Linked DNA regions of Homo sapiens: regions 2, 3 and 4 are each linked to region 1. Evidence: fine-mapped expression QTL. A gene starts in region 1. Each other region holds a variant in brackets. All regions are shown on one strand. Distances are between the middles of the regions. Region 1 holds the start of TLCD4 (TLC domain containing 4). Region 2 overlaps TLCD4 (TLC domain containing 4). Region 3 overlaps TLCD4 (TLC domain containing 4). Region 4 has its middle 27 kb from the start of RWDD3.

The links.
Region 2: its variant is fine-mapped to the expression of TLCD4 in subcutaneous fat (GTEx, PIP 0.96).
Region 3: its variant is fine-mapped to the expression of TLCD4 in whole blood (INTERVAL, PIP above 0.99).
Region 4: its variant is fine-mapped to the expression of TLCD4 in lung (TOPMed, PIP above 0.99).

The regions. Positions count from the first base shown.
Region 1 is chr1:95,113,557-95,121,556 of GRCh38, reverse strand. It overlaps TLCD4 (TLC domain containing 4), which reads right to left and starts at 4,202. Exons shown (of 7, transcript NM_152487.3): 1 at 3,940-4,202. It overlaps TLCD4-RWDD3 (TLCD4-RWDD3 readthrough), which reads right to left and starts at 3,634. Exons shown (of 8, transcript NM_001199691.1): 1 at 3,466-3,634. RefSeq lists silencers at 3,712-3,761, 3,842-4,121, 4,049-4,195 and cis regulatory regions at 5,450-5,977, 7,589-7,818.
Region 2 is chr1:95,159,835-95,167,834 of GRCh38, reverse strand. The region is part of intron 5 of TLCD4 (TLC domain containing 4); the gene reads right to left. All of the region lies in intron 5 of TLCD4-RWDD3 (TLCD4-RWDD3 readthrough), which reads right to left. It overlaps RWDD3-DT (RWDD3 divergent transcript), which reads left to right. Exons shown (of 4, transcript NR_125949.1): 4 at 2,637-4,616. Among named protein-coding and RNA genes, the nearest start is that of TLCD4-RWDD3, 46 kb to the right of the region's middle. The variant G/A (reference allele first, on the strand shown) is at 3,370.
Region 3 is chr1:95,136,004-95,144,003 of GRCh38, reverse strand. It overlaps TLCD4 (TLC domain containing 4), which reads right to left. Exons shown (of 7, transcript NM_152487.3): 2 at 1-113. The coding sequence starts at 102. It overlaps TLCD4-RWDD3 (TLCD4-RWDD3 readthrough), which reads right to left. Exons shown (of 8, transcript NM_001199691.1): 2 at 1-113. The coding sequence starts at 102. Among named protein-coding and RNA genes, the nearest start is that of TLCD4-RWDD3, 22 kb to the right of the region's middle. RefSeq lists a silencer at 7,000-7,192 and an enhancer at 7,747-8,000. The variant A/C (reference allele first, on the strand shown) is at 3,490.
Region 4 is chr1:95,257,197-95,265,196 of GRCh38, reverse strand. No RefSeq gene overlaps it. Among named protein-coding and RNA genes, the nearest start is that of RWDD3, 27 kb to the right of the region's middle. The variant A/T (reference allele first, on the strand shown) is at 4,116.

The DNA.
Region 1 (8,000 bases):
GGAAGTTGCAGTGAGCCAAGACTGTGCCACTACACGCCAGCCTGGGTGACAAAGCGAGACCCTGTCTCAAAAAGAAAAAAAGAATACTTTTCAAATTCTCTGTGAGGCAAGCAGCCAACTTCCTAATGAGTTTGATCAGCAAATGGGGTTTCAAAACACATTCCATCCGCTGCTTCTGCTCCAACTTCTCAAAATTGTGAGGGGAGGTGTGAGCCTCCTACTCACCCTCCCTGCACTACTAGCCCCTCTGCTCCCTATCCGGCCATGAAAGTGGACATGACCTGAATTCATCAGCCAATTTGTTCTGGGTCCTTTTGTCTCCTCATTAAGCGTACAGACGAAAATCTTACTGCTCTAAAGAAATGTGCTTACATATCCAAGTTCACTCCTTGCACGTTTCCTTTTCCTTAAAGCCAATCATTTTGCTTTGAAGTAAGTAGAACTGGTGGAAAGTCCCCTCTTCTGCATCTGTCCCATCATTTCATCTATGTGAGTTCTGCACCTGTCAGACACAAGATGAGTCTCTACACTGCCTTCTCTCCCACCGACAGGGGTCCAGGTAGTGCTCAATCAATTCTATGCTCCCCACACCTCCTCCAGTATCTCCAATCCCCCTCCGCCCAGCCTGCTCCACTGCAACCTGTTTTTCTACCCATTGGAAAAGTGGTTTCCAAATAGTGGACTGTGATCCACTAACACGTTATGAGTTTTTAAGAACACAGACTAGAAACAGAAATTCAATAGAAATAGAAACTAGTTTCACATACACATATACTTGCTATGCCCTGGGTCTCAGTGTAAAAATGCATTTTGTACTGTTGTAGTCTGAAAATGTTTGAAACACTGCTTTAGACAAGCGTTTGTCCACCTACTCAAACTCCACCCATGATATTGGTCCCGCTGTCTGGGACTCCCTTCCTCCAGTGCTGGCTCAAGCTCTGAACAGCCTTCCACGTGTCTTCTTCGTTGGCTGTTTTCAAAAGCTTTGGCCTTTTACACCAGTTCAGAAGCTCCTTCTTATATATCCATTGCCTTCTCCGTGAACAGACCAATGTTCTGAACAAAGAAACACCTTTTGCTATTCCTGCCTTATCCTGCCTGATCAGGTCTGGGATCTGCTTGCAGCACATCCAACTGTCTCACCAGGAATAACAAGCCTCAGAGCAGTAGGCCTCCATTTCTTTGTGTGCAACCTTTCATCCTCAACAAGAAAAAATACCACTAAAGTCACTCTGGAAATACCTAGACTTTCTTACAAAATTAGCCTTACTTTCCTAATGTAATGTATTCTCTGGTGTAATCCATCCAGCGCCTGATACCAATGCCAGGTGAATACAGCTCATTCCTAATGTTCAGTTAAAGTCTGTTTCCCATCCTTGAGAACAGATGGTGACTCCACCTCCATACTGCTATCTTCTTCTTCTCTCAAGGCAAATGGAAGAAGAAAAAGCACAACAGGGTGACTGCACTAGTTTGGTGGTATCCTTTCCTCTCTCAAGGACGAGGGCACAAGTTGTCCAGCACAACTCCACCCCCAGTCTGGCCCTCCTTTGTCCAAATGCCCATAATTCTCACCCAGACAATTAATTCATTATCTTCCTTAACAGAAAAGCTAGCTTTTCATATCTTAGTGTAGACTGTTCAGTTTACTCTTCTCAGCCAAACTGAGTATCCCAGTTTGAGATATTGAAGCCCAAACAAATCCTTAATCTGTAGGATGTGGGACTAATTTGGAAAGAAGGGTGGGGAGAGACACTGAGGTCTAAAGAGTTTCTTACAAACTAAACTGCCCATTTTCCTCTAATACATGCAAGACCAGCTTTGAGAGAGGAACATGAACGCTGGGCCTCCTTTAGAGCACCAAAGAGGAGAGTAAACAGGTCTGAAAACTGTTAAGACAGCTGTGCTTGACTCTGAGGAGCCAGAAACACTCTCAAAGAGAAAGAGGGAGAAGGGCCCATCAAACCTCAGGTACATTCCCAAACCTGCCTAGAAGCTGTGCCACTTCCCTTTTGAAACCCAGCCCCTTTCCCATTTCTCAATTGGGAATCTAGGGATCCTTTACTTCCTACTAGTTATCTGGTTACAGGGAGGACTCTCCAACACCTACAAAGCCACTACTTCTTTCTCCCCAGTCTTTTGCAGGGAAGGCTCTTAATCAGTCTAACACTCAGATTTCTGATAGCTCCCTGCTCATAAGACTTCCCTTGGCAATCAGATGAATTTACCCAGTGGAGATTTCAGAAAATCAAGGAAAAGACAGGCCAACTCTTGCATCTGTACTCCAGGACCTATTCAGAAGACTCCAGTGAAGACCTAGCTTCCCTGGGGTTTGCATTAGTCTCAGCACCTTGAGCATGCCATTCCTAGTTCACCTCCAAGTATAAAGCATTAGTAGCAAAGACCCATTATTCTTTCCACCAGGGTAAAGAAGGCTTAGAGTGAAATGAATATAAATGGAAATCTAATACTGTAAATAAATAATGACTGATTGGGCAGCTGGGTCAGAGGCATCCAGCCTAAACAGATAAAATTCATCTCAAGGATGAGGACAGTAAAGATTCAAACTCCAGAGGGAGGTAATGGGACAAAAGGAGTTGCAGGCGTAGAAAAAAAAAGAAGCACCCTCAAAATATTCTCTGGGTTATCAGATGGCACAGGAGGGGCGTGGCAAATAAACTAAAATCCATGGTTCTTCACCCATTCTTTCATATTTTCTAACACGGCGGGAATACACTTTTCTAATTTCGTTTCGCCCAATTTAAGGAAAAGATAAGCAAGGATAAAAATTCCTCATATATAGCACAATTAAAAGGGAGCTGGGATTCTCTAACTTATTACCTTAATCGGCTACACAAAGATGAAGCTACATTTCAATCGACACCATGCGCTGGCACGGGAGTAACTCACTTAAAACACCACAATCCAAGGTCAATTTTTCTCAACTCCATTTATGACTGCGTAAAGATTTTATTAAATCTTTTTTCCTATTTCACACATCAATTCCTAGGGTCCACACAAACTCTTCCATCTTCTCCAAACTGGTATTTGGATTAAACATTATCCAAGATCAGTCTTTAAAGTAAATTTCATAATTTCATATAAAAGTGTGCACCACATTAACACTCAAATGTGTGTACAATTAAAAATATACAGACCAGCAACAGCGACTCTTAAATGAATTTAGACTCAAAGTGTTTTCACAGAGGTTTTTCTGCCGTCTTGGAGGGGTAGGAAACTGCTGGCATTACGAATCCCATTTCATGGCTGGGTAAACCGAGGCACTTAGGGGTTACAGAGGTAAAGATGGAAATAGAAACCAATTTCTCCCTCCGACTCTACGCCTGGTCCCTTCCCACTAGACTTTTCAGCACTCAGTGGCTAAAAATGGGACCCACTTGAGAACTGCAAGGGTAAATAAGAGCTACTTGTTTCAGAAGGTGGCGGCGGGGGAGGGGGACTTACCCACTTGATGCGCCCGATTGTGTGTGGGCTCTAACAAGAAAGCTCTCCCTGGATGCCCAAAGGTTTGCACCCACCCGCTTTAAGCTCAGACCCGAGAGGCACCGCCAGGCAGACAGGGCAGCCGGAATCGTGCAGCCCGAGAAACGCGAGAGGAATGCGGGGCGCCCGGGCGGCGCGGGGGCCGCGGGCCCCGGGACACCATTTGCTCCCGGAGCGACGCCGTGGCCCGCCGGGCGGGGACGATGCTGAGCCTTCCGCACACACCTGCCGGAGCCCGCCCGGGAGCCCCGGGCCGCCTCCCGCGCGCCGGACGCCCACCCAGCCTCCAGGCGCAGGAGCTCTCGGCCGCGCTAGGCCAGGGGCGGGAAGCCGCGGCACCCCTCTCCGCGGGCTGCGCTTGGCGGCTGGCGCGGGGGAGCCGCGGGGCGAGGCAAGCCCGCCTTCCTCCCCAACCCCCCCTCCAAACGGCGTCACCTGTGCCGGGTCCCGGGGCGAGTCGCGCGCGGGCGGCGGCTGCGCCGAGCCGGGAGAGGGCGGCGGGTGTCTACAGGAGTCTGCTCATCCGGGCCGGCCCGAGGGCTGGCGCTGGCCAGTGCCGCCCGGTGAGATGCTCACGGGAGCCAGGGAAGCCGCGGGTTCCGGGCCGCTTGGAGGTGCAGTCGCGGAGGCTCCAGCTACCGCGGCGGCCGTCGCGCCCGCCCGGACTGCGGGCTCGGGTTACCGCAGAGCTGCTCCTTAAAGGGGCCGCGGCCGCTCGGGCTCCGGCTCCCGCTCCGGGCGGCTCCGACCCTGGCCAAAGTGGGCGGGGCCCCGAGGCGGGCCGCCGAGCAGACCTTCTTGCCCTGGAACTTGGGTCCCGGAAAGAGCCCAAAAACCCTAACACCCGAAGTCGCAGCGGAGAGATCCTGGAAGCTCACACCTTGCCAAGGGCAGAGGGTGCAATTCCCGGGTTTTCCAAAGCAAGTCACAAAACTTGCCAGCGGGGGAACTGTGTGAGCCCGCCCCCGCAGCGGTCAGTACCTGGGCTAGCCACGTAACAAAAAATCTTCTTAAATTATGAATTTACATTCTGCCTTAAATGCTCAAATACTGGGGACTTCATGGTTAGATCATCAGAAAAGAGATGAAAAGGCAACTGCTGGTTTTTCTTGCCACGTCTGACACGGCCACACTCGAGTCCCGCCAGTTCTTCTTTGGGGCTGCAGGTGCATACCAAACTGGTAGGGGGCGCGTGTAGAAGAAGCGTGTTCTCTCCAGCACCACCTCCAGAATTCCTGAAAAACACCCTCATGGGTGCACCAGCACTACACCTACACCCGGAACCCCTCTGTTGTCGGGGTGTGGAAGTTGGATTTGAATATTTGGTGCTGGCTGAGAATTCCAAGTTGCCTAGTAGATAAAGTTTGACATTAAATAGATGTTCTGACCTGTTATATACAGCCCCAAAAGCCTCCAAGTGATCTGCATCAACCAGAGATAATTGTCTGAAACAAAACAAAATAACAAAGAGGTATACTCATGCATTATAATTCGCAGAGAGCAATCACAAGGCCTTTTCTTGAAAAGAGGTAAGTTCTAAATAAATAATTTGTAAACACTATCATTGATAACAGGATATTTATTTCTAAGAAATGTCAATAGAGCTAACATATTTGATCTACTATATACATGCGCAGAAAGACACACATATCTGCCGCAGATTTAGACCAGAAAATATATACACAAAAGCTCATATAAGCTGTCCATGTTTATTTTCAAGAGAGGGCAATAGAATTTAAATCAGAACCTGGAATTCTGTCAGTTTATTAGAGTTGTGTGCCTTTAGCTAACTGAACCTCACTGAGGCTCAATTTCTTCATCTTTAAAATGGTAATAATAATTCATAGTGACTCTGAAGACCTGGACTGATGTGGAAAAGACAAAATCTATACCACAGAACAGGGAGGGACAGAAACCTGCCCTGCAGTCAAGCAGAGAGAAAGATCTTTCAGGCCCCCAAATGCGTGTTCCCCTTTTTCTCCCCAAGACTCTCAGGATGTACCAGGGCTCCAGTGCTCTTTGAACCACACGGTGTCCCATCATAGTCCCTTCACAATATGTGCAGTACCTGACAACTTTGGTTTGCGCAATAGCTACCTTGTGCACTCACATAGCTATTTCATAACTCTCTGTGGGCAGGATGGTTATATGTGAACATCTGTGAAGTCAGCCCAGAAAATACCAATTTCACAGTGTCCTCTCAAGAGTCTGTATCAACACTACCTCCTACAGAAACTCTCCCATGCTAGTCTCTGGTGGCTGATAGTAGCTCTGTTCTTTCCTGATAAATGCACCATCATTATCTTTGATATGCATAATTCTCTAACACCAACAGCAGTAACCAAAGCCAGGTAAACCCACAGAAATCCACTATACTCTATGTCCCACTATATTCCTTCATATTAGGCCTCTACAAATGCCTCATGAAAACTGCAAGATTGTTTTTGAGATTGTACAGAACATATAAGTTAATATATCAAGGACAAGGCCTGAGCTATGAGAGGAATTCAGTAAATAGTAGTTGAATGTTGCAAGTTTTAAGCTAATTAAAACTCAGTGACCTTAGGAGGTAGAAGAATACATCAACTGTATTTTTTCCTGAAAAATTCAGGGTAGCTTAATCTCTTTAAAAATATCCAGTTCATGGCTGGGTGCAGTGGCTCACGCCTGTAATCCCAGCACTTTGGGAGGCTGAGGCGGGCAGATCACCTGAGGTTGAGAGTTCGAGACCAGCCTGACCAACATGGAGAAACCCTGTCTCTACTAAAAATATAAAAAATTAGCCAGGCATGGTGGTGCTTGCCTATAATCTCAGCTACTCGAGAGGCTGAGGTAGGAAAATCGCTTGAACCTGGGAGGCAGAGGTTGTGTGAGCCGAGCTCACACCATAGCACTCCAGCCTGGGCAATAAGAGCGAAACTCTGTCTCAAAAACAAACATATATATTATATATATATATATATAATGTGTATATATATATATCCAGTTCATTAAATCTGTATTATTAATTGTTTCACCAATATTCCCTTTCCAAGGATACTTTCTCAGAATTCTGTATTTACCATATGAAGTTTTTCTGCATTTTAAATGGGATGTATAAAGACCGAATTGCACTTTTTATATTGTTATTCACTGAAACAGTTCAAGCAAACAGATCAGAGAAATGAAAGTATTTATCCACACTTGAAATGGGCAACAAATACAAAAACTCTTTTTTTTTTTTCTTTGAGACAGAGTCTTGCTCTGTTGCCCAGGCTGGAGTGCAGTGGTGCCATCTCGGATCACTGCAACCTCCGCCTTCCAGTTTCAGATCTCGTGCTTCAGCCTCCCGAATACCTGGGATCACAGGCATGCACCACCATGCTTGGCTAATTTTTGTATTTCTAATAGAGACGGGGTTTCACCATGTTGGCTAGGCCGGTCCCGAACTGCTGACCTCAAGTGATCCACCCACCTCGACTTCCCAAAGTGCTGGGATTACAGGCTACCATGTCCAGCCAAAAACTGTTTTAAATGAAGTAAGTTTTCCTGATGAATTTATTTTCCAAAATTCTTAATCTTCTGAATAGAACCAATTGTTTGAAAAACTAAGACCAAAAGCTGTTTTTTTTCTAAAAATTATAATTAAAGCAAAAATATTTTGAGAAGTTGCCTTAATTCTCCACTCTGCTCTGTTAGTGAAGATACAAACTAAATGACGCCAAACATTTTGATCAGAAAGGCTGAATTACTAAAAAATGAATAACCCCAAGCACTACTTTTTCCTGTGTTGGTAGTTTTAGTGTATTAAGAGTGTTTGTAGTTTTATAAGTGTTTAAAAATACTTTCACCAGGCACACTGGCTTATGTCTGTAATCCCAAGTGCTTTGGGAGACTGAGGCAGGAGGATTGCTTGAGACCAGGAGTTGGAGGCTGCAGTGAGCTGATATTGCACCACTGCACTCCAGCCTGGGTAACAGAGTGAGACCCTGTCTCTAAACAAACAAACAAACAAACCAAAAGGTTTTTTTAAAAGTACTTTCATTTGTTTTCAGATGAAACTATTTCAAGATATTACCAGTGGTTATTTCTGGGTGGGTGAGACTTTTTTTTTTAAGAGATAGGGTCTGCTATGCTGCCCATGCTGGGGTACAGGAGTACAGTGGCCAGTCACAGATACCATATCACATGACAGCCTCTAACTCCCAGGCATCTATGGAGGCAGCCCATAAAATACAGAAACAATCCTCCCCATTTAGCCTCTTAAATAGCTGAGACTACAGGCACACTCAGTTTTCTGGATGGATGAGATTCTGGCCATCTTTTTATGTTCTTTTTGCGCATTTTATTATATGTGATATATTTTCTACAATGTATGTGTATTGTTTTGTTTGCATTTTTATTTTTAGTGAAAGTAACACACATAAGTGAAAAATCAAATAATTCTTAAAGGCTTATAACAAAAAACATCAATGAGTGCCATCAGCCCCCGGCCCTGCTTCTCCCCACCTGTCTTC
Region 2 (8,000 bases), 46 kb before region 1:
AGAATGTGGGGGTCGAAAGGGAGCGTTACATTAAGCACATGATTTACAGCTGTGATGGTTTAGCATATGCTCTGCTACTTGAGATAATGGAGAGCAGGTTCTTTTAACTCAAGATACAATCGATCCTGGGAGAGCAAGGAGCAAGGAGCCAGCAAGTCTAGACACATTCCAGAGCCAGGAGCCTTGGATTCTATCCAAGCCACGAGCGGTTTTATGCCCTGGGCTTAGATTACCGTGCGTCAGGGTAGCCTTCCACCCTTTGGCACAGAGCTTGGTGTTCCAAAGGCCACAAGGGGTTTTAGACCCTGGACCCCGCACATGTTCCAAGACTCTCTTACATTATGTCAGACATGCAAGCCCTGCCTCAGCTTCTCTCCCAACACTCAGCATTTCCCAACAGATACCACCACTATATCCCAATGCTGACAGAATTTCCAGAAATATTTATTGGCAAACTTTTTAAAACTTCCTCTATTTGAGCAAATTATTATTATAATTAAGCAATTACATTTTGGGAGGCAGGGATAGTTAAAAGCAATTAAGTTTTGGGAGGCGGAGACAGTTAATGACAATACGCCTGTGGTATGGAGGGCAGGATTTGAATCCTAGCTCTGGTGGCAACTTGGGGCAAAGCTAATCTAAATTTCGGTTTCTCCTTTTGTAAAATGGGCACAATGCCATCTTTATAGCAAGACTGACATGAGAATAAAATGAGACGCATACTGAGGGCCATCAGGAAAAATACTGATGGCCATCAGTATGCGGCACTCAAAAGAGAAGGCACTCAAAAGAGGAAAAAGAACTAGGTACAGTGGCTCATGCATATAATCCCAACACTTTAGGAGGTTGAGGCAGGAGGATCGCTTGAGATCAGGAATTCTGGGCCAGCCTGGTCAACATAGTAAGACCCCACGTCTACAAAAAAAATTTTTTTTTTAATTAGCCAGGCATGGTGGCGTGTGCCTATAGTCCCAGCTACTCAGGAGGCTGAGGCAGGAGGATCACTTGAGCTCAGGAGTTAAGGCCATAGCAAGCTATGACTGCACCACTGTACTCCAGCGTGGGTGACAGAGTGAGACTTTGTCTCTAAAAAAACAACTGAACAAGGTAAATTTTCTTATTATAAAGACAAGGCCTAAAACGGCCTATTCCTTCCTGCCTAGGTGCAATCATTCACACCTAGTTACTGATGCAAGGGTGACCACACAGGTCTAAGGTTCAGGCCTGGATGATGGGGAGGAATGGATGATTAGACAGATCATTACAGTCAGGAAGGACTGGATGCACTACTAATGAACACTGCTATTTTACTATAAAAGATAACCTTACGTGAACAAATCACCCTCCAAAAGTAGTTGTTACTTTCTACTTGTTGCAGAAAAGCATCCAGGATGAAAAGGAAAATTAATACTTCTAAGGGTAAACTAAACTGTTTTATTGATCCTATGGTTTTTGTCAGCTTTTCATCTCACTTTGCACAACTATAATATATTTCATCCAACCTAAACTTAACTGTGTTCATGATGACTTTATGTTCATCATACCACAGTGTGGCATGGTTGAAATGGCCTCTGAAAATTACCTACTTTCTATTACCCATAGATTTTTAAATCCCACCCACAAAAGCTCTTCCAGTTTGCCCTCAGCTTAGGGTGGACTACCCCATAGTGAGAAGTGTAAGCAGCTCACTGCAACCTGGGACTGCTATTCAAAAGTTCCAAAACTATACTGCTCTCTCAGATTTCCACCTGCCTGTCCTACTTCTGATCCTCACAACCCAAAAAACTTAATTGAATCCAATCTCTTTTTCATATAAACCTTCTGATATTTACAGACAGTATATGTTTATTTTCTTTCCCAGTATCATTTCCACATTGCTCAGGTAAAGACTCTTCTAGCCAACCCTTTTCAGAGTTCCTGATCCCTGTTAACTGCAGTCTTCACAAAACAAAAATAAAACAAACAACAGAAACCAAGCAGCCTCTTGATGAAAAGAACCAGTTACACAATGGTTCTCTGAAGAGAATTTTGGCAGAATGAATCAATATCCTTAAAACATACATATACTAGGCCAGGCGCAGTGGCTCATGCCTGTAATCCCAGCACTCTGGGAGGCCGAGGCGGGTGGATCACCTGAGGTCAGGACTTTGAGACCAGCCTGCCAACATGTTGAAACCCCGTCTCTACTAAAAAATACAAAAATTAGCCGGGCATGGTGGCAGGTGCCGGTAATCCCAACTACTTGGGAGGCTGAGGCAGGGGAATCGCTTGAACCCGGGAAGTGGAGGTTGCAGTGAGCCAAGATCACGCCATTGCACTCCACCCTGGGGGACAAGAGCGAGACTTTGTCTGAAAAAAAAAAAAAAACACACACACACACACATACTATTTGCCCAAGAATTCCACTCAACAAAATTATTCTTTGAAAATAATTATTCATGTGCACAAATGAGAAGATATATGGATATTCACTCAAAGTTACCTATGACACTGAAACACATAACAATAGTCATTGGTTAAATGTTATTACATATCCATATGCCACCAGTAGAGATAATGATACCACCAGATAGTCTGAGAATAAAAACATCTTCAGAACTTTCAACAGACTCAGTTTACCTCCTTCGCTTTCTTAGGTATCATTTGAGGATATGCTGCAGCAAAATGAGTGAATAAACAAGAAAGTCAAAGACATGGGATTGAGGAAACAGTGACTTCAGCCCAAGATTGGAATGACAGGGAGCCCCAGGCCACTGGGCAGCAGCACAGACAGCAATCTGTTCAGACTGCAGCAGAACAGCAAACTCCTGGAGCAGGTATGTGGGAGCTGGGAAAAGACGGTTGCAGAGATGGAGTAGTATCCTTGAGGATATGAAGCTACTCAAATATGTAGTAAAGGCAAATGATGGGGGGAAAAAAGGAAGGCAATTAGAAACTCCAAAAAAATTACACAGAAAATGTAATCTGGGTCCTGCAATCAACTATTTTAATACAATCATAATAAATATTTTACTGATTTTCTATGTGTAGATCAACTGACTACAAAGAAAAACTATGATTACAGAATACAAAGTAGATATTTTTAATTCTCAGCAATACAAAAGTACAAGTGATAAAAACTGAGAAGCAAAGTAGGAGTTAGAGAAGTAGAAGAAAAAATTGGGGCACTAATATCTTCATTTTTAAAAGTATCAAGAGGTGGCGGGGGTTCCAAGATGGCCGAATAGGACCAGCTCCAGTCTACAGCTCCCAGTATGAGCGACACAGAAGACGGGTGACTTCTGCATTTCCAACTGAGGTACCGCATTCATCTCACTGGGGCTTGTCAGACACTGGGTGCAGCCCACAGAGTGTGAGCCGAAGCAGGGC[G/A]AGGCATCGCCTCACCTGGGAAGCACAAGGGGTCAGGAATTCCCTTTACTAGCCAAGGGAAGCTGTGGCAGATGGTACCTGGAAAATCGGGACACTCCCACCCTAATATTGCGCTTTTCCAACAGCCTTAACAAACAGCACACCAGGAGATTATATCCCGCGCCTGGCTCAGAGGGTCCCATGCCCACGGAGCCTCGCTCATTGCTAGCACAGCAGTCTGAGATCAAACTGCAAGGCGGCAGTGAGGCTGGGGGAGGGGCATCCGCCATTGCTAAGGCTTGAGTAGGTAAACAAAGCGGCCTGGAAGCTCGAACTGGGTGGAGCCCACCACAGCTCAAGGAGGCCTGCCTGCCTCTGTAGACTCCACCTCTGGGGGCAGGGCATAGCTGAACAAAAGGCAGCAGAAACTTCTGCAGAATTAAACATCCCTGTCTGACAGCTTTGAAGACAGTAGTGGTTCTCCCAGCACAGTTTGAGATCTGAGAACAGACAGACTACCTCCTCAAGTGGACCCCTGACCCCTGAGTAGCCTAACTGGTAGGCACCTCCCAGTAGGGGCCGACTGACACCTCATATGGCTGGGTGCCCCTCTGAGACAAAGCTTCCAGAGGAAGGATCAGGCAGCAACATTGGCCATTCTGCAATATTTGCTGTTCTGCAGCCTCCACTGGTGATACTCAGGCAAACAAGGTCTGGAGTGGACCTACAGCAAACTCCAACAGACCTGTAGCTGAAGGTCCTGTTAGAAGGAAAACTAACAAACAGAAAGGACATCCACACCAAAACCCCATCTGTATGTCACCATCATCAAAGACCAAAGGTAGATAAAACCATAAAGATGGGGAGAAACTAGAGCAGAAAAGCTGAAAATTCTAAAAATCAGAGCACCTATTCTCCTCCAAAGTAACGCAGCTCCTCGCCAGCAGCAGAACAAAGCTGGACAGAGAACAACTTTGACAAGTTGAGAGAAGAAGGCTTCAAACGATCAGTAATAACAAACTTCTCCGAGCTAAAGGAGGATGTTCGAACCCATCGCAAAAAAGCTAAAAACATGCAAAAAAGAGTAGACGAATGGCTAACTACAATAAACAGCATACAGAAGACCTCAGGTACCCAATGGAGCTGAAAACCATGGCACGAGAACTATATGACACATGCACAAGCTTCAGTAGCCGATTTGATCAAGTGGAAGAAAGGGTATCAGTGATTGTAGATCAAATGAATGAAATGAAGTGAGAAGAGTTTAGAGAAAAAAGAGTAAAAAGAAATGAACGAAGCCTCTGAGAAATATGAGACTATGTGAAGAGACCAAATCTACGTTTGACTGGTATACCTGAAAGTGATGGGGAGAATGGAACCAAGTTGGAAAACACTCTTCAGGGTATTATCCAGGAGAACTTCCCCAACCTAGCAAGGCAGGCCAACATTCAAATTCAGGAAATACAGAGAACACCACAAAGATACTCCTCGAGAAGAGCAACTCCAAGACACATAATTGTCAGATTCACCAAAGCTGAAATGAAGGAAAAAATGTTAAGGGCAGCCAGAGAGAAAGGTTGGGTTACCCACAAAGGGAAGCCCAACAGACTAACAGCGGATCTCTCGGCAGAAACTCTACAAGCCAGAACAGAGTGGGGGCCAATGTTCAACATTCTTAAAGTAAAGAACTTTCAATCCAGAATTTCATATCCAGCTAAACTAAGCTTCATAAGTGAAGGAGAAATAAAATCCTTTACAGACAAGCAAATGCTGAGACATTCTGTCACCACCACGCCTGCCTTACAAGAGCTCCTGAAGGAAGCACTAAACATGGAAAGGAACAACCAGTACTAACCACTGCAAAAACATGCCAAATTGTAAAGACCATCGATGCTATGAAGAAACTGTACTGATTAGCGGGCAAAATAACCAGCTAACATCATAATGGCAGGATCAAATTCACACATAACAATATTAACCTTAAATGCACATGTGCTAAATGAGCCAATTAAAAGACACAGACTGGCAAATTGGATAAAGAGTCAAGTCCCATCAGTGTGCTGTATTCAGGAAACCCATCTCACATGCAAAGACACACATACACTCAAAATAAAGAAATGGAGGAAGATCTACCGAGCAAATGGAAAGCAAAAAAAAGCAGGGGTTGCAATCCTAGTCTCTGATAAAATAGACTTTAAACCAATAAAGATCAAAAGAGACAAAGAAGGCCATTACATAATGGTAAAGGAATCAATTCAACAAGAAGAGCTAACTATCCTAAATATATATGCACCCAATACAGGAGCACCCAGATTCATAAAGCAAGTCCTTAGAGACCTACAAAGAGACTTAGACTCCCACACAATAATAATGGGAGACTTTTAACACCCCACTGTCAACATTAGACAGATCAACGAGACAGAAAGTTACCAGGATATCCAGGAATTGAACTCAGCTCTGCATCAAGCAGACCTAATAGACATCTACAGAACTCTCCACCCCAAATCAACAGAATATACATTCTTCTCAGCACCACATCGCACTATTCCAAAATTGACCACACAGTTGGAAGTAAAGCACTCCTCAGCAAATGTAAAAGAACAGAAATTATAACAAACTGTCTCTCAGACCACAGTGCAATCAAACTAGAACTCAGGATTAAGAATCTCACTCAAAACCACTCAACTACATGGAAACTGAACAACCTGCTCCTGAATGACTACTGGGTACATAACGAAATGAAGGCAGAAATAAAGATGTTCTTTGAAACCAATGAGAACACAGACACAACATACCAGAATCTCTGGGACACATTTAAAGCAGGGTGTAGAGGGAAATTTATTGCACTAAATGCCCACAAGAGAAAGCAGGAAAGATCTAAAATTGACACCCTAACATCACAATTAAAAGAACTAGAAAAGCAAGAGCAAACACTTCAAAAGCTAGCAGAAGGCAAGAAATAACTAAGATCAGAGCAGAACTGAAGGAGATAGAGACACAAAAACCCTTCAAAAAATCAATGAATCCAAGAGCTGGTTTCTTGAAAAGATCAACAAAATTGATAGACTGCTAGCAAGACTAATAAAGAAGAAAAGAGAGAAGAATCCAATAGATGCAATAAAAAATGATAAAGGGGATATCACTACTGATCCCACAGACATGCAAACTACCATCAGAGAATCCTATAAACACCTCTACGCAAATAAACTAGAAAATCTAGAAGAAATGGATAAATTCCTGGACACATACACCCTCCCAAGACTAAACCAGGAAGAAGTTGAATCCCTGAATAGACCAATAACAGGCTCTGAAATTGAGGCAATAATTAATAGCCTACCAATCAAAAAAAGTCCAGGAGCAGACGGATCCACAGCCGAATTCTACCAGAGGTACAAAGAGGAGCTGGTACCATTCCTTCTGAAACTATTCCAATCAACAGAAAAAGAGGGAATCCTCTCTAACTTATTTTATGAGGCCAGCATCATCCTGATACCAAAGCCTGGCAGAGACACAACAAAAAAAAGAGAATTTTAGACCAATATCCTTCATGAACATTGATGCAAAAATCCTCAATAAAATACTGGCAAACCAAATCCAGCAGCACATCAAGAAGCTTATCCACCATGATCAAGTTGGCTTCATCAGTGGGATACAAGGCTGGTTCAACATACGTAAACCAATAAACATAATCCATCATATAAACAGAACCAAAGACGAAAACCACATGATTATCTCAATAGATGCAGAAAAGGCCTTCGACAAAATTCAACAGCCTTCATGCGAAAAACTCTCAATAAACTAGGTATTGATGGGATGTATCTCAAAATAATAAAAACTGTGACAAACCCACAGCCAATGTCATACCGAATGGGCAAAAACTGGAAGCATTCCCTTTGAAAACTGGCACAAGACAGGGATGCCCTCTCTCACCACTCCTATTCAACATAGTATTGGAAGTTCTGGCCAGGGCAATCAGGCAGGAGAAAGAAATAAAGCGTATTCAATTAGGAAAAGAAGAAGTCAAACTGTCCCTGTTTGCAGATAACATGACTGTATATTTAGAAAACCCCATCGTCTCAGCCCAAAATCTCCTTAAGCTGATAAGCAACTTCAGCAAAGTCTCAGGATACAAAATCAATGTGCAAAAATCGCAAGCATTCCTATACACCAATAACAGACAAACAGAGAACCAAATCATGAGTGAACTCACATTCACTATTGCTACAAAGATAATAAAATACCTAGGAATCCAACTTACAAGGGATGTGAAGGACCTCTTCAAGGAGAACTACAAACCACTGCTCAAGGAAATAAAAGAGGACACAAACAAATGGAAGAGCATTCCATGCTCATGTGTAGGAAGAATCAATATCGTGAAAATGGCCATGCTGCCCAAGGTAATTTATAGATTCAATGCCATCCCCATCAAGCTACCAATGACTTTCTTCACAGAATTGGAAAAAACTACTTTAAAGTTCATATGGAATGAAAAAAGAGCCCGCATTGCCAAGACAATCCTAAGCCAAAAGAACAATGCTGGAGGCATCATGCTACCTGACTTCAAACTATACTACAAGGCTACAGTAACCAAAACAGCATGGTACTGGTACCAAAACAGAGATGTTGACCAATGGAACAGAGCAGGGGCCTCA
Region 3 (8,000 bases), 22 kb before region 1:
AACTTTTGCTGAAAACCAGTAACTTACAAAGTAGAAAAGAAGCTGAAAGGTGAAAAAGCTGATACAGGTAACACTGATGAGCAGTTTTGTGTTGATCTCCATATTTCTTCAACCTGTTAAGATAAATGACAGCTATAAATTGTTGTCTCATAATAAACCTAGAGTAATTTTTTTATTTTAAGAAATATGTCTTGTAATTTTAGTAATTTTTAAAATTTAGAACAAATGTTAAGAATATAAACTATAAGAATTTTTGACCTTTTGTATATTTCTTCACCTTTACCATCTATTTGTCATGTATCTTATGTCTGTTTTATCTTAAAGATCTCAATATTAGAGGTGTCATTTATAATTTTAACATCATGATATTCAAAATTATCTAAGTCTTAATATTAACAGAGAATTTCAAGTACTATAAGTAAAAACTATTCTTCTAATAATATTTCAATTAAATTTATGACAAATCGATTTCTTTATCCCTCAATTTCTCATCTATGATATGAAAGAGTTGGTTACATAATTTCTAAGAAACAATCAAGCCAAAAACCATAGAACTAACACTGCCTGTAATAACAAAACAAAAAATAATTCCATAATTAAAAAACTAATTTTGGAGCAGGACAAACAACATTTAAAACAAAATTAAAATCTTAAGAAGAACACAGTCTTAGCAAAGAGCCATTGCACTGTTGAGGCAAGACAATAGGGTCTGGAGGCAGGGAACCTAAGGCCGATTCATACTGACTTCCTAGAACTAAATCAAACAGAAAAGCCCAACTTTACACACCTAACTAACAAAATAACTGGAGGTTACTCGCTTTGAAAACCCCTCCCTCACTTTTCTGAGTGGCAAATGGAAAACTGAAAGTACCTCTGATTGGTTGCTTTCCGCAACCAATCAGACGTTTACATAGGAGTATAACTTTATAACTTCATTTCAGCCTCTGATTGGTTGCTTTCCCCAACCAATCTGACTGACTGCCAGCCAAGTCTTCCTTTGCACAGAAGTGTAACTTCCCCTCCCCTCCGCCACGCCCCCAACCCCGCCTCCAGATGGAGTCTTGCTGTGTCCCCCAGGCTAGAGTGCAGTGGTGCGATAGATCTCAGCTCACTGCAACCTCCGCCTCCCGGATTCAAGCAATTCTGCTGCCTCATCATCGCGAGCGGCTGGGATTACAGGCACGCACCACCACACTCGGTTAATTTTTGTATTTTTAGTAGAGACGGGGTTTCACCATGTTGGCCAGACTGGTCTTGAACTCCTGACCTCGTGATCTGCCCACCTCAGCCTCCTAAAGTGCTGGGATTACAGGCGTGAGGCACCACAACCGGCCTAGATTGTGGGCCACTACTTCATTTGCATGGGGTGTACAACAAGTGGCCAATGGGAAACCTGTAGCAGGTATTTAAGCCCTAGAAAATTCTGTAACCGGGCTCTTGAGCCCCTATGGTAGGACCAACTCCCACCCTGTGGAGTGTACTTTCATTTTTAATAAATCGCTACTTTCATTGCTTCATTCCTTCCTTGCTTTGTGCATTTTGTCTAATTCTTTGTTCAAAATGCCAAGAACCTGAACACCCTCCACCGCTAACACCGTCACTGCACAAATGAGAATTTAACTTTTAAAACATGCTCTTCAATCACACACATTCTTGGAGCAAAAGGCCTGCAGGGCTTTGTATCCCTTATTAAAAAAAAAAAAAAAAAAAAAGATTTTTATAAAAGAGCTTCAGGTCTTAACAATCGAGTTAGCAGAAAGAATAGTACTATGCATATATGCACACTCAAAGTGTGTTTTCTATTTCATTGAGCTGAACTTTATTTGGCTCCTAAAAATCTTAGGAACATTCAGAGCAAAAAAAAAAAAAAAAAGGCACTAAGGCATTTGCTCATATCCAGCAAATACAGCATTTCTATGGCTCCATCTTTGATAAAGCTGATTCTCAAATGAAAAAGAAATAAATCAATACACATTTCCAGCTGCCTAATGCAAAGAAATAAAGTCACCTACTGAAATCAATTCACCAGAGAAAAGCCAAGTCATTGACTGCACTAGCAATAACCCCACTTCATTCCCTTCCAACCAGGATATCGTAATAAGAATCAATCTCCCACAGGGCCCCTTCCATCAGAATTCATATGTCTATAATGAATTCTTTCCTCATTCTTTGTGTGTGTGTGTGTGTGTGTGTGTGTGTGTGTGTGTGTGTACTTGGTAAAAATATTGATATTACAATTCTTCTCTATGAGACTCCATTAACTTTACTGCTCTTTTACTTCTTTTTAATTCAACATATGTTTATTGGGTATTAAAATTTTAATTTGTGGTCTTTTAGCCTAGGTTTAATATTAACCAAACAATACATAAAAGTTTTGTACATAAATTAAGCATTACCATAATTTGCTAAGTGGGATGTAAGGAGAATAATGCTTTTCTAAGATTAAAGCAAATAGGTATCTGGAGGCCAGATGGACACAAAATTGGAAAAAAAATATAATCAGTAATCAGAAGAGAATGGAGAATCTAATCTTAAATGTGAGGAGGTTTCCCCTGAAGACTTTCGTATGCTCTCTGCTGATCCTAGAGCAGAAGGTGGGCACGGGCTGCTCATTTAGTTTGTTAAAATTCAATGTATACAAAGCATTTATTTCATGAATGTTAAAAGGTGTCATAAAACATATCATACCTTATCCATTTTATGAATTGTTCATTTAACTACTGTATTTAAAAGCACTCAAACAATTCACCATTAAAAAATGTATCATCCCACCCTCGCCCAAAAATCGAGTTTTTAAGTCTTTGTTCTAATGGATGAATATTATATTTTGAACAGAATTATTATCAGGTAAGACTTTGGGATATATGTTTAGAGTCTCCCTTTGGAAAAATGTTTCATTTAAAACTAAATAAAGAGCTCCATATATTCAAGCTGTGACTTCCATTAAAAGCTCAACAGATAGAAGCCAATTAAATTGTTCTACTCTCAGCTTTGCCTCTTAGTGAACAGCTGCTTGCTTAATCAGTCATGCCAAATCAAGAACTAATCTAGAGATCTTTACAAATTTCCCCAGAAAACCAAGGCTTCTGGTAGGAAGCAGCTACCCCTGTTCATTCACTTTAATGCATGAATCAGGCAAGAAAAATGGTAAAAAGTGATAAAACCAAAGGATGCTCATTACTAACATATGTTAAGGGCCTGCAAGAGTTTGGTGATTATTAAGTATAGGAATATACAGTAAAACTGGAAAAGCACACCTACTTCATATACCTCTACAGGTAGCTAGTAGCTGGCAGAAAGCTGGGATACTATTTGGCCTAGCGAAGAGCAGCTGAAACAGATAAGGGAAATACTTCTGTAGCAATTTACAAGAGCGTCTAGACATGAACTCTACATTATAATTAGTCCATCTTGATTCACAGGAATTGTGGACATCAAAGAAACTTTTCCAGAGACCTGTTGAATGAAATAATGTTTATACTTTTCATT[A/C]AAGATGGTTTACATAAACTTTAATTGACACTGATTTCTTAGTAGGGAAAAACATGAAAAGGTCTGAAGTACAGTCATGCACTGCATAACGATGTTTCAGTCAATGACAGACCACATATACAATGGTGGTCTCATAAGATTATAATGGAGCTGAAAATTCCTATCACCTAGAGACGCTGTAGCCATCATAACACCGCAGCGCAACACATTACTCACGTGTTTGAGGTGATGCTGGTGTAAATAAACCTACTGCACTGACGGTCATATAAAAGTCTAGCACATACAATTATGTGCAGTACATAATAGTTGACAATGATAATAAATGACTATGTTACTGGCTTAAGCATTTACTACACTATACTTTTTATCATGATTTTACAGTGTATTCCTTCTATTTATTAAAAAAAACCACACACACAATTAACTGTAAAACAGCCTCAGGAAAGTCCTTCAGGAGGCAGTCCAGAAGGAGGCATTGTTCTCATAGGAGATGACAGCTCCATGTGTGTTATTATCCCTGAAGACCTTCCAGTGGGACAAGATGTGGAGGTGGACGACAATGATATTGATGGTTCTGACAGACCTAGGCTAATGTGTGTGTCTGAGTCTTCGTTTTTAACAAAAAAGTAATAAAATAATAATAACATAATTGTAAAAATAGAAGAAAGCTTATAAAATAAGGATATAAAGAAAATCTTTTTCTACAGCCATACAATGGGTTTGTTTTCAGATAAGTGTTATTAAAAAGAATCAAAGGCTGGGTGCAGTGGCTCACGCCTGTAATCCCAGCACTTTGGCAGGCCGAGGCTGGTGGATCACCTGAGGTCAAGTGTTCGAGACCAGCCTGGTCAACATGGTGAAACCCCATCTCTACTAAATATGCAAAAAATTAGCCAGGCATGGTGGCACATGCCTGTAGTCTCACCAACTCAGGAGGCTGAGGCAGGAGAATCACTTGAACCTGGGAGACGGAGGCTGGAGTGAGCCAAGATCACGCCACTGCACTCCAGCCTAGGTGACAAGAATGAAACTGTCTCAAAAAAAAAAAAAAAAAAAAAATCAAAGGTTTAAATAAAAAAGTTTATAAAATAAAAAAGAAACTAAGCTAAGGTTAATTTATTGAAAAAAGAAATTTTTAAAATCAATTTAGTGTTGCCTAAGTGTACAGTGTTTATAAAGCCTACAGTAATGTTCAGTAATGTCCTAGCCCTCCACTTTCACTCACCACTCACTCAGTGATTCACCTAGAGCAACTTCTAGTCCTGCAAGCTCCATTCACAGTAATTGCTCCACAGAGGTGGTGTAACATTTTTTATCTTTTTTTTTTTTTTTTTTTTTTTGACACAGGTTCTCACTCTGTCATCCAGGCTGGAGTGCAGTGGCACAATCATAGCTCACTATAACCTCAAACTTCTAGGCTCAAGTGATCCTCCCGCCTCAGCCTCCCACATAGCCACCACACCCAGCTCATTTTTTTTTTTTTTTTTTTTGTAGAGACTGGGTCTCACTATGTTGCCCAGGATGGTCTCAAAGTCCTGGCCTCAAGTGATCCTCCCACCTCAGCCTCCCAAACCACTGGGATTACAGGTATGAGCCACCATGCCTAGTCCAATTTTTAATCTTTTATACTACATTTTTTAACTGTACCTTTTCTATGTTTAGATACACAAATACTTGGCATTGTGTAGCATCTGTCTACACCATGTATTCAGTACAGTAAATACTATACAATGTAGAATTTAGATACACAAATACTTGGCATTGTGTAGCATCTGTCTACACCATGTATTCAGTACAGTAAATACTATACAATGTAGTATTTAGATACACAAATACTTGGCATTGTGTAGCATCTGCCTACACAATGTATTCAGTACAGTACTGTACTGTATTCAGTACAGTAAATGCTGTACAGGTTTGTAGCCTAGGAGCAACAGGTTATGTCATAAAGCCTAGGTGTGTGGTAGGCTATTCCATCTAGGTTTGTGTTAAGTGCACTCTATGATGTTCACACAATGATAAAATTGTGTTAAGGACACATTTCTTAGAATGTATCCCCATTGTTAAGCAATGCATGACTGTACATGTCTTAACTATCAGCTATGAGAGCACTTCCCTTCCAGCAGGAGGACTCCCAGAGATAGGGCCCTGGGAAACAGCACTGCCAGGGCTAATTCAGTCTTCACATCAAAAAACAGTCCATCCATCTGTCTCTGGTCCACCATGAGCCAGGCACTGTGCTGGAATACAAAATAGGGAGACATGCTTATAGCCAGTAGGGATACAAAGAAATTGATCCTCACCACACAAAGTGGTAAGTGTAGGGTGCTAAGAGAATGCTCCCTGCTTTCCAAGGAATAAATACCCAGGAGAGGTAACACATAATAGTGAGGAGGTATCCAAAAGTAAACCAAGAGGACATTTTCTCTTCTATTAAAATCCCAATAAGATGCTTTTAGGCTGGAGCCCAAAAGACTCAGTTCTCAGTCGGGCTCATGCCTGTAATTCCAGCACTTTAGGAGGCCCAGGTAGGAGGACTGCTTCAGGCCAGGAGTTCAAGACCAGCCTGGACAACATTAACAAGACCCCGTCTCTACAAAAAATAGAAAAATTAGCTGGGTGTAGTAGCACATTCCTGTAGTCCCCACTACTCAGGAGGCAGAGATGGGAGGATCACTTGAGCCCAGGAGATGGAGGCTACAGTGAGTTATGATTGTGTACCAGGGCACTCAGGCCTGGGTGACCGTGCAAGACGCTGTTTCAGAAAAAAAGAGAAGGAAGAAAGGGAGGGAGGGAGGGAAAGAGAAAAGAAGAGGAGGAGGAAAGAAGGACAGAGAGGAAGAAGGAAGAGGGGATGAGGGGAAGAAGGGGCAATTTTAAAGGAAATTGACTTTAGAAAAAACAGACTCAGTTCTAGTAGGTGAGGTTAGGATTACCAGCCCCTCCCCACCAAAACACGATCACTCACTCATTTCCCCCATTTGTGATTCCTTTGCAAATACAGGGATTCCTTAGAGAATATATCAAATACCAGTGCCACTTCCATGCACATACATAACCCCTCTCCTTCATTTTCTGATATAATCCCCCAGTGAGAACCACTGCTGGAGTGTTTTGCAGTAAAAATCCCTAAAAAGAAGGGGATGGGTCTGTGTGTTTGTCTTTAAGGGCAGCAAAGAAGGGGGAAGCTGGGAAGAATGCCCCAATTATGCTTAGCATTCCTTTTCCCATCCCTGGCAAGCTCCCTTTCCTATTTCCCACATTGACTCCAAATATTCACCGCTCTCAAATCTCTAGTTCTCCCTCTTAAAATAGATGAGGTTTCTTCCCATTTGACCAAGAAAATGAAGGCGATCAGGCATAAACACCTTTAACTTGGCAATGTTTACTACCTCCCCCCAACCCCCACTACCTGAACCTCTTCTCTGCATACTATAGGTTCTGCCTGGCTATGCGCCCTGCACCTCCAACACTGCTTATACTGTGTGCAACTAGATTTCACCACCCGCCATGTACCAGCCCTGAATGGTCAGCCACCCTCTGGATGGGCTCCATTTGTGCATCCAGAGGCCCCACAGGTTCTACTTCGCCCAAGTTGAACTTAACCCCAACCAGCCCTTCTCTGTGGTGCCATACCTCAATGAATGACATGGACATCCACAATACTGCCCCATCTTCCAACCTGGAACAGCTCAGTCATCCTGGATTCCTTCCTATACCTTACCTCCACAAATAACTGACCAACAAATCCTGGTAGATTGGAGAATACCAAGTGAAGGATACCTTGATCCCAGCAAAGTTCTGAAAGTTTCTCATGATAGCCTTATGAAAAATACCAAAAAAAGTGGCTAGATCAACAAAGTTAGTGAGCCCAAGAGCTAGCTGAAAACTAGAAGCAGCATGTAAATTAATGATCCAAAGTAGAATTGAGAAATATCTCTTGATATTTTATACAATTTTCTCTTTTTTGGTCCTGTTTTAGCAAATATTTTTTGTAAATATTTGTATGTTTACTTAAGCTGCATACAACACAGAGGTGGGAAAGACAGCTAATACATTAAGTTAACAGAATCAGGTTTTGAAATTATCTTGATTAGCTGAAATAATGAATCCAAATCATAAAGGCAAAATATAATAAAATTTTTAAAGGCAATACCAAAGTATAGGACTTGGCATAATAGCCATACACACAAGACCTTAGCATTGTAAGTGACACAAATCAATGAAAGACAACAGTATAACAACAATACTAAACACACACAAAAAAAAACAAATTTCAGGCTCATTTATACTCAGAAAGAGTGGAAGTGCATCTTTTGATCAAGCATCAGTCCCATATACTCCCAATTAATTACATACCAAAGTACCCTTAGAGTGGTGTAAAGATGGTAATCTTATCATGTCATAAAGAGCTAAGAGGCTGAGTAATGTTAGCTTGGGAACAAGATTTCTTAAAAAAAAATAAAAAAAAAAAACTTGAAAACTTGAGAGCAGGCCAGGCTCAGTGGGTC
Region 4 (8,000 bases), 140 kb before region 1:
CCAAATCTCATGTCAAATTGTAATCCAGTATTGGAGTAGGGGCCTGGTGGGAGGTGATTGAATCATGGAGGGCAGACTCACCGCTTGCTGTTCTTGTGATAGTGAATAAATTCTCACGAGATCTGGTTGTTATAAAGAGCATAGAACTTCCTCTCTCTCTGTCTCTCTCTCTCTCTCTCTCTCTCTCTCTCTCTCTCTCTCTCTGTCTCTGTCTCTGTCTCTGTCTCTCATGCTGGCCATGTAAGACATGCCTGCTTCCTCTTCACCTTCCACTATGATTGTAAGTTTCCTGAGGCCTCCCCAGAAGTAGAAGCCTATGTAGCCCACATAACTCAGAGCTGATTAAACCTCTTTTCTCTGTAAATTACCCAGTCTCAGGTAGTTCTTTATAGTAATGTGAGAACAGACTAATACACATGACTAAAACATTTTAAAATATTTCATCTCCAAAATGTTTCCAAAAAGGCCTTGCTAATTAAGGAACTGACCTTTGGATCATGGGGAACCTCATTCATTCAAAGTTAACTGAGATGCTCCCTTGCACGTGGAGTTGGTTTATCAATATAGATACATAGATGATTTATAAATAGATCTAAATAACTTCATACTTGAGGGCCTAGAACAAAGCTCTAACTTTAAAGAAATCAAATGTATTCTGCCCTTCTCTCTATTCTCTTTCTACTTGGATTTCTTGGGAATTCACATTTTTGTGGCCTGATAAGGTAAATCCAGCAGTGGGCCTAATGAAAACCAAGAAGTGACCATAAATTAAATTCACAGCAGATTTTTCTCCTTTTTGCCCCCTTTGTGTGTTATTTTCATAGGAATCTGTGTCTTCAGGAGAAATAAGAGCAAAAAGTTTAGCGCCATTCTGAGTATACTATCTTAACACCATGGAAATTATGAATAATTATTAGTAATAATTCTAGGAAACAGATTATCATAACAAAAAAGCATGCCAAATTGCCTTGTACTTTATTAGTAACATGGGAACATAAACTGAGAATGTGCTAAGGTGATATTTTGCTACAAATAGTCGAAGAAATATTTATTTAATATGATATGGGATGGTATTTTAAAATATTAACTTATCTGTCTTTTCCTCTTGTGTTTTTTTTTGTTTTTTTTTTTTTGTATCTTTTCTTCAGCCCAAACCATAAGGTCCATCTCACCTTCACTGCAACAAAGAAGGGTTGTTAAAGCTGGACACAGGTAAAGAAAAATTAAATTCTTGGATATTATGTTTCAAAAGCTTACTTTAAGAAAATCTAGGTTTCTAAGAACTCTAGACAAAAAGTTTAAGCCATAAATAATAGATTTGGAATGACTCAGAGTCAGTCACATTTTATACTCTGTTACTTGTAATAGGTTCCAAATTTCATATATGTACATCAGGACTAGATTTGATGACATGTGATAGAAAACTTAAAATGTGGCTTAAAGCCGCAAAGTTATATTCTTTCACATAAAAAAACATTCAGAGGGTAATTCCTATTGTCCGCTCCACTTTCACCCTCAAGCTCACCTCATCATCCCAGATGCCTTTGGAATGTCTGGGACTGTGTCCACATGCCGGGGGCGGGGGAAGGGGCAGAGCAAAAGAGACAGCGCCCAGTGAGCCAGCACCTTCAAGAAGCCTTCCTGGAAGTCATGTTCAAGACCCAGAATTTGGTCTTATGGCCCTGCCTAGTTTAAAGGAAATCTAAAAAATATGGATTTTATTCTAAATGGCACTGTGCCTAGGTAGAAATTGGGGCTCATTACTATAAAGGAAGGTTAAAATGGAAACTATGTAAACACCTATTGATCTCTACCACCACTAGCTTTTCTCCCACCAGAGAACATAATTTTCTCTGGGTTGTGGGTTAAGAGCCTTTAGAGGAATTGTTTTGAGAGGGTGAGACAGTAGAGCCTGAAGATAAGGGGAACCAATCTGAAAGGACCAGGCGGACAAAGGCGAGGTGGTATTCATAGACCACCTAGAGTGAGTCTCAGGGAATGATCTATGAAGAAAGTCAGTGCCCTGCCACTACCCAGGTTCCATTCAAGTGAGCACCTTATCTTACTGTGCAGAAGGCCTTTGTCAATCATTCTGACCGCTACTTTCCGGAAAGGGACCCCCAAAAGCACAGTGGCCTGTTACTGCACCAGAAGTATTATAATATGTTCTGCTATGCTCTGAGACTTGGCATGGCCTGCATAGGCAATTCCCCTTACAGTGGCTCTGGACATTCAGAAGACCACTGAAACAGAAATTATGACACCAACCATCAAGATGCATCCTGATTTAAAAAAAAAAAAAAGCACTAGCACACTTCACACCAGCACTGGACTAGCTCAAGATTGCTCAGAACCAAAACTGGTGAACAATATCCTCTTTATAAGATGTAATCCTGCCAGCATTGGTTCCTAAAATATTTTATTCTGAGGTAATTACTTGTTTCAGACCATTTAAGAAAACCTACAGATAACTAAACATAAACCTTGGTGTAATATCCCACCCACTAGAGTGATTAAAATGAAAAAGAATAGCAATACCAATTTTTGGTGAAGGAATGCAGCGCCTGGAACATAGGTAGGTTGATGCAAAAGTAATCGTGGTTTTTGGCTGGGCGCAGTGGCTTATGTCTGTAATCTCAGCACTTTGGGAGGCCGTGGCAGGCAGATCACCTGAGGTCAGGAGCTCGAGACCAGCCTGGCCAACATGGCGAAACCCTGTCTCTACTAAAAATGCAAAAATTAGCCACGCCTGATGGTGGGCGCCTGTAATCCCAGCCACTTGGGAAGCTGAGACAGGAGAATCGTTTGAACCCGAGAGGCAGAGGTTGCAGTAAGCTGAGACCGCGCCATTGCACTCCAGCCTGGGTGACAAGAGCAAAATTCAGTCTCAAAAAAAAAAAAAAAGGAATTGCAGTTTTTGCATTGGAAGTAATGACTAAAACCACAATTACTTTTGCACCAACCTAGTACATTGCAAATGGAAGCGTAAAATGGTGCAACCACTTTGGAAACAATTTGGCTATTTCTTATATAAAGTTAAACAGACATAGAAATTCCACTCCTAGATATTTACCAAAAGATGTGAAAATCTGTATCTATAAAAAGGCTTACACCTAAATATTTATGCAGTTTTATTCATAATATCCATCAAAGGTGAATGGCTAAATAAATTTATATGGTGGACTACTGGCCACCAATAGAAGGGAACAAACCACAATACACAACATAATGTAGATGAAATCACAGACAGTGAAAGAAGCTGGACACAGAAGAGTACACATTATTCAATAACACCTTTATTCTAGAACAGGCAAAGCTAATCTACAGTGATAGAAATCAAAACAGTGATTACCTAAGAAGAGGAGGGGAGGAGACTGCAATGGGGCTGAGGGAACTTTCTGGAGAGGTGGAAAGGTTCTGGGGAGGCGGAAAGGTGGAAAGGTTGTACGTGTAGATTGGTTTTCTCTCCGGCCAAACTCAGCAGCTGGAGTCACCCCAAGAATGGTGGCAGGGGAACTCCTTCAAGGGACCGTCCCAAACCTTCCTGAGATTGGGCCTGCTTGGGTTTCAGAGAAGGAAGCACTAAACTCCAGAGTGACCAATCTGAAGCATTTATTAGGGGAACTTACAAGTTACACAGGAGGAGGCTGCAGCAGGTCCGCCTGAGCGACAGTGAGGGGGAGATGTTCTTCCTGAGTATGTCCGCAATGAGGGGTCAGGTTATGGAGTTTATGTGAGAGCTTAAAGAATTTTTCCGAAGGTGGACGCCTTCTACGTGTATAGTAACATAATCAATCTCTGTGTTTCCAGCAACAACCTAAACAGCTTTATCAGTAGTGGGGAATGTTCAACGCCCTAGCTTGGATTCAAGGATGCAGGAAAAACATGTAGCTGGCCAGGTCACAGAGTAGTCAAGGCATTCTGTTTTCCTTGGTCAGGACACAGGAAGAAAGCAGAGACGATATTGGGGGACCCAACAATTGGAGTAGTGGTTGATGATTACGGATGTGTACTTGAGTCAAAAGTCATCAAATTGTAACCTAAAAATGAATTTTATTTTTACAGTCATATTACTAAAAAAAAAGAACTTCCGTTCATCAAAAGACACAACAAAA[A/T]GCAAACCACAGAGTGAGAGAAGCTACTTGCAATACATATATCCAACAAAGGGCTCATATCCAGAATTCATAATGAATTCTACACCCAATAAGAAAACAACAGACTGCCCAGTAGAATAATGAATGAAGGATTTGAAGATACAATTCACAAAAGAGGATGTCCAAATGGCTAACATATATTAGAATGTGCTCAATATTATTAATATCCAGCACCACTAGACACACACTGTAATGACTAAAATTAAAAAGACTGTCAGTACCAAGTATTGCCAGGAGTGTAAATTGCCCCAACCACTTAGGAACACAGTTTAGCATCATCCAGTAAAGTTGAAAATATGCAAACACTAAAACCTTGTAATCACACTGCTAGTTATATACTCAACAATAATGCATATTTACATGTACCAGGAGATATCTACAACAACATTTATTGCACTACCATTTGTGATAGCAAAAAATTTAAATATTTAGACAAATAACAATCTATAGTAGACTCGATAAATAAATTGGGCTATATGAATATTTCATACAACAATGAAAATGAATGCCTCATAGCTATAAACAATAAAATAGATGAATCTCACAAATACAAGACTGAGCAGAAGAGATCAGACTTTATCATAAAGAATTTAAAAACAAATTTAAAAAACTAAATTATACTGTTAGCTTACTTAGGTAGTAAAATTAAAAAAAGAACCAGGAAATGATTGCCATAAACATCCAAATAGTGGTCAATTCAGGGGGTTGAGACTGGGAAGTGTAAAGATGCTAGCAAAGTTCTATTTCTTGAACAGGTGGTATTTATACAGATTTTACTTCATAATAATTTCTTTAGCTGTACAATTATATCTTATTCATTTGTGTATGAGTGTTATATTTCACAACACAATTTTTTAAAGAGGCATGGGAGGCGATGACATAATAACATAATAGATATCAGTTCAATGAACAAAACAAAGTGGGAATCAAAGAGAGGATGCTATTTATAAGAGGAAATATTTGAGCATTTTTATTATTGAAGATTAAAAATGCAAGAGAGAATTAATGTTATGAAATCTCAGAGAAGACAGAGGATGGAATCAAGTATGTATAGGCAAGTGGTCTTGCCTTAAAAAAGACAACCATTCTGTCTCCAGATTAGGAAGGAGAAGGAAATAATAATACAAAGAATATTTGAAACAGAGAAAGTATATGGAAGGTCATATTGGGTGATCTCTGGCAGTTAGAATGTTATTGATGGAGATTTTGAAGACTTATATTTGTCATCATAGGTTTTGTTTTGTTTTGTTTGAAGTTTCAATGTACATTCATACATAGACAAACCAATGTCTTTCCAGAATCCAGAAGAGGAATTTAACTTTCTCTAGTAACACAATTTGTATTCATTTCACATAACTCAATATTTGCTGTGCCTCCAATAAGTAAGGTCCTACCCTCGAAAACTTCCAATCTAGTAATGGGAAGAACAAAGTACATTTAAAATGATAACATAAAGTACAGCATATACTAAGAAAAGGAAAGGAAGGAGGAAGAGAGTAAAAGGGAATAATCAATGTCAATTGAGTTCCTACTACATGTCAGACACCGTGCTAGAGGCATTTGTACATTATTTAGTGTAATGACAAGTCTAAGAGGTAAGAAAGGGGTATTATTCTGATTGATTGTACATATGTCAAAACTGAGGCTTGCTACAAGAATTCAGACCAAGGAACAATTATTGATCCCAAAATAGGGATCAAGCATTTTATACAGGAAACAGCTCTGCAAATATAGAAAAGATGTCAACAGACAGTTTGTAGAAGAATGCACAAGAAAAAAATAACATTTCAAGAAGAAGGACAAATTTGATTATATGCAGAGGAAAGAAAAATAAGCAATATTTATACAGTTTGGCTGAGGCAAAAAGGCTACATAGAGAATGAGTGGAAAATAAACCCAGAAAATAATGATGTGGGGTCAAATTGAGAAGGCATTTGAAGATACCAGATTCAAGAGTTTACAACTAATTCAGTAGGAAACGGGAGTGATACTACTACTTGAGGAAGATTTATCTAGTCCAGGTCTGCCATCCCTAATTCACAATTCCAAAATCCAAAAAGTTCTAAAAAACCAAAAATATTAAGGTTTTTTTCTGAAACCTTAAAAAGCCAGCCTAATCTGAATTCATTTAGCATCCAAGTTTAACCTGAATCAAAGTGAGAACATTTATACTCTTTATTTATCTTAATGTGAATATTCATGTGTTTCACTGAAGAAATAACTGTGTTTGATTACAGAATGTTGCCCCAGCCCCATTGGGTAGATTTTAAAATATATGGTACAACCATATTACCTTTCTAAAAATGCAAAAATTAAAAAGAAAAATCTTCATTCTAAAAACAGATTTAATTCCAACAGTTTTAGATGAGGGATTATCAACTGTAACAATCTATAGAATGGGATAAGTGGAAGAACAGAGGTGAGAAGGCCAGTTTGGTGACCTCCAATAGTCCTGGCCACTTACATACAGTGGTGGCCATGAGAATGGAAAAGATGGGTGAATATAAGAATCACTACAAACTATACTTGGAAGCTAACTGGATGTAAGAGAGTAAGGAAGACGTCAAAGGAAAATCCAAGATTAATCCTGGAAGCCTAATAGTAATTTCAACAGTCAACAATAACAAAAATTAGATCATTAATGGGTTTACTTTAATCATAATGGATTTAAGATGTTGGCAGGACATGTAGGTTGTAATGTGAGGCAGAGAGTTAGAAATGAGTGTTTAGAGGTCAGGTGAGAGGTCAGGACCTGAGATGTAAATTTGAGACTCAACTACATAGAGGGAAATAATGACAGTTATGAAAATGGATGGAATTCTCAAAGAATCAAGAGATTCATGCATGGAATTTTGGTAAATCATTAGCACTTTACAGCATAGCTCTCTTGGTTGCATGAAAGTTCTATTGCTAAAGATTAGCAGAGGCTAACCATGCCTTAGTGATGAAGGAGCAGCATTATCAGAAGCACCAGAAATGCACCAGGTGAAGGATCACACAGATAAAAGTGCAATTCCTGAATTCCTTCCTAATAACTACTTCAGGGTGTCTTGCCAACAGTGAACTGAGCAAACACAAGTTTACAGCTTTGGAGCGATATCCCAAAGCAGATGAGCTCACTTTTTAAAAAAATCAATATATGTCCTTCAGTCAACATTTGTTATGCTCCTAGGCTAGCAGAAATGTAGCTTTTTGTGGAATCTCTTATCATGGTTAGTTGTGACTCAAGAGGAGTCACTCAAGCCAAAAGAAACTACAGTTTGTCAAGTTGTTAACTTATTTTGTAAAAGGTATCTGTCTTACCAATGCTACTACAAATTCATATCAGTATTTAATGTTTTATAGCAATGAAAACATGGTAGGGAAGAGATGGCAATGAGTTAAGCAGATATGAACTGAAAGCCACATTCCTCACCTCTAAAAGCAAAGCAACTGACAGGATATTTCTTGAGAGGTGTGATAGTTAATTTTATGTGGCAACTTGAATGGGCCTGGTTCTTGGTCAAACATTATTCTGGTTGTTTCTGTGAGGGTATTTTGGATGAGATTTACATTTAAATTGGTGGACTCTGAGTAAAACAGATCCACCTCTATAATGTGATCAGGCCTCTTCCAATCAGTGGAAAGCCCAAATCAAATAAAAGGCTGACCCCACCCTCCAACTCCACCCCAAAGTAAAAGGGAATTCTGCCAGCAGACTATCTTCAGACATCAACTGCAACATTAGCTTTTCCCTGGATATCCATCTTCAGAGTCTTCAAACTTGAACTGCAACAGGGCTCTTTCTGAGTCTGCAGCCTATCAGCTCACTCTGTAGATTTTGAACTTGCCAGCCTCCACAAATGC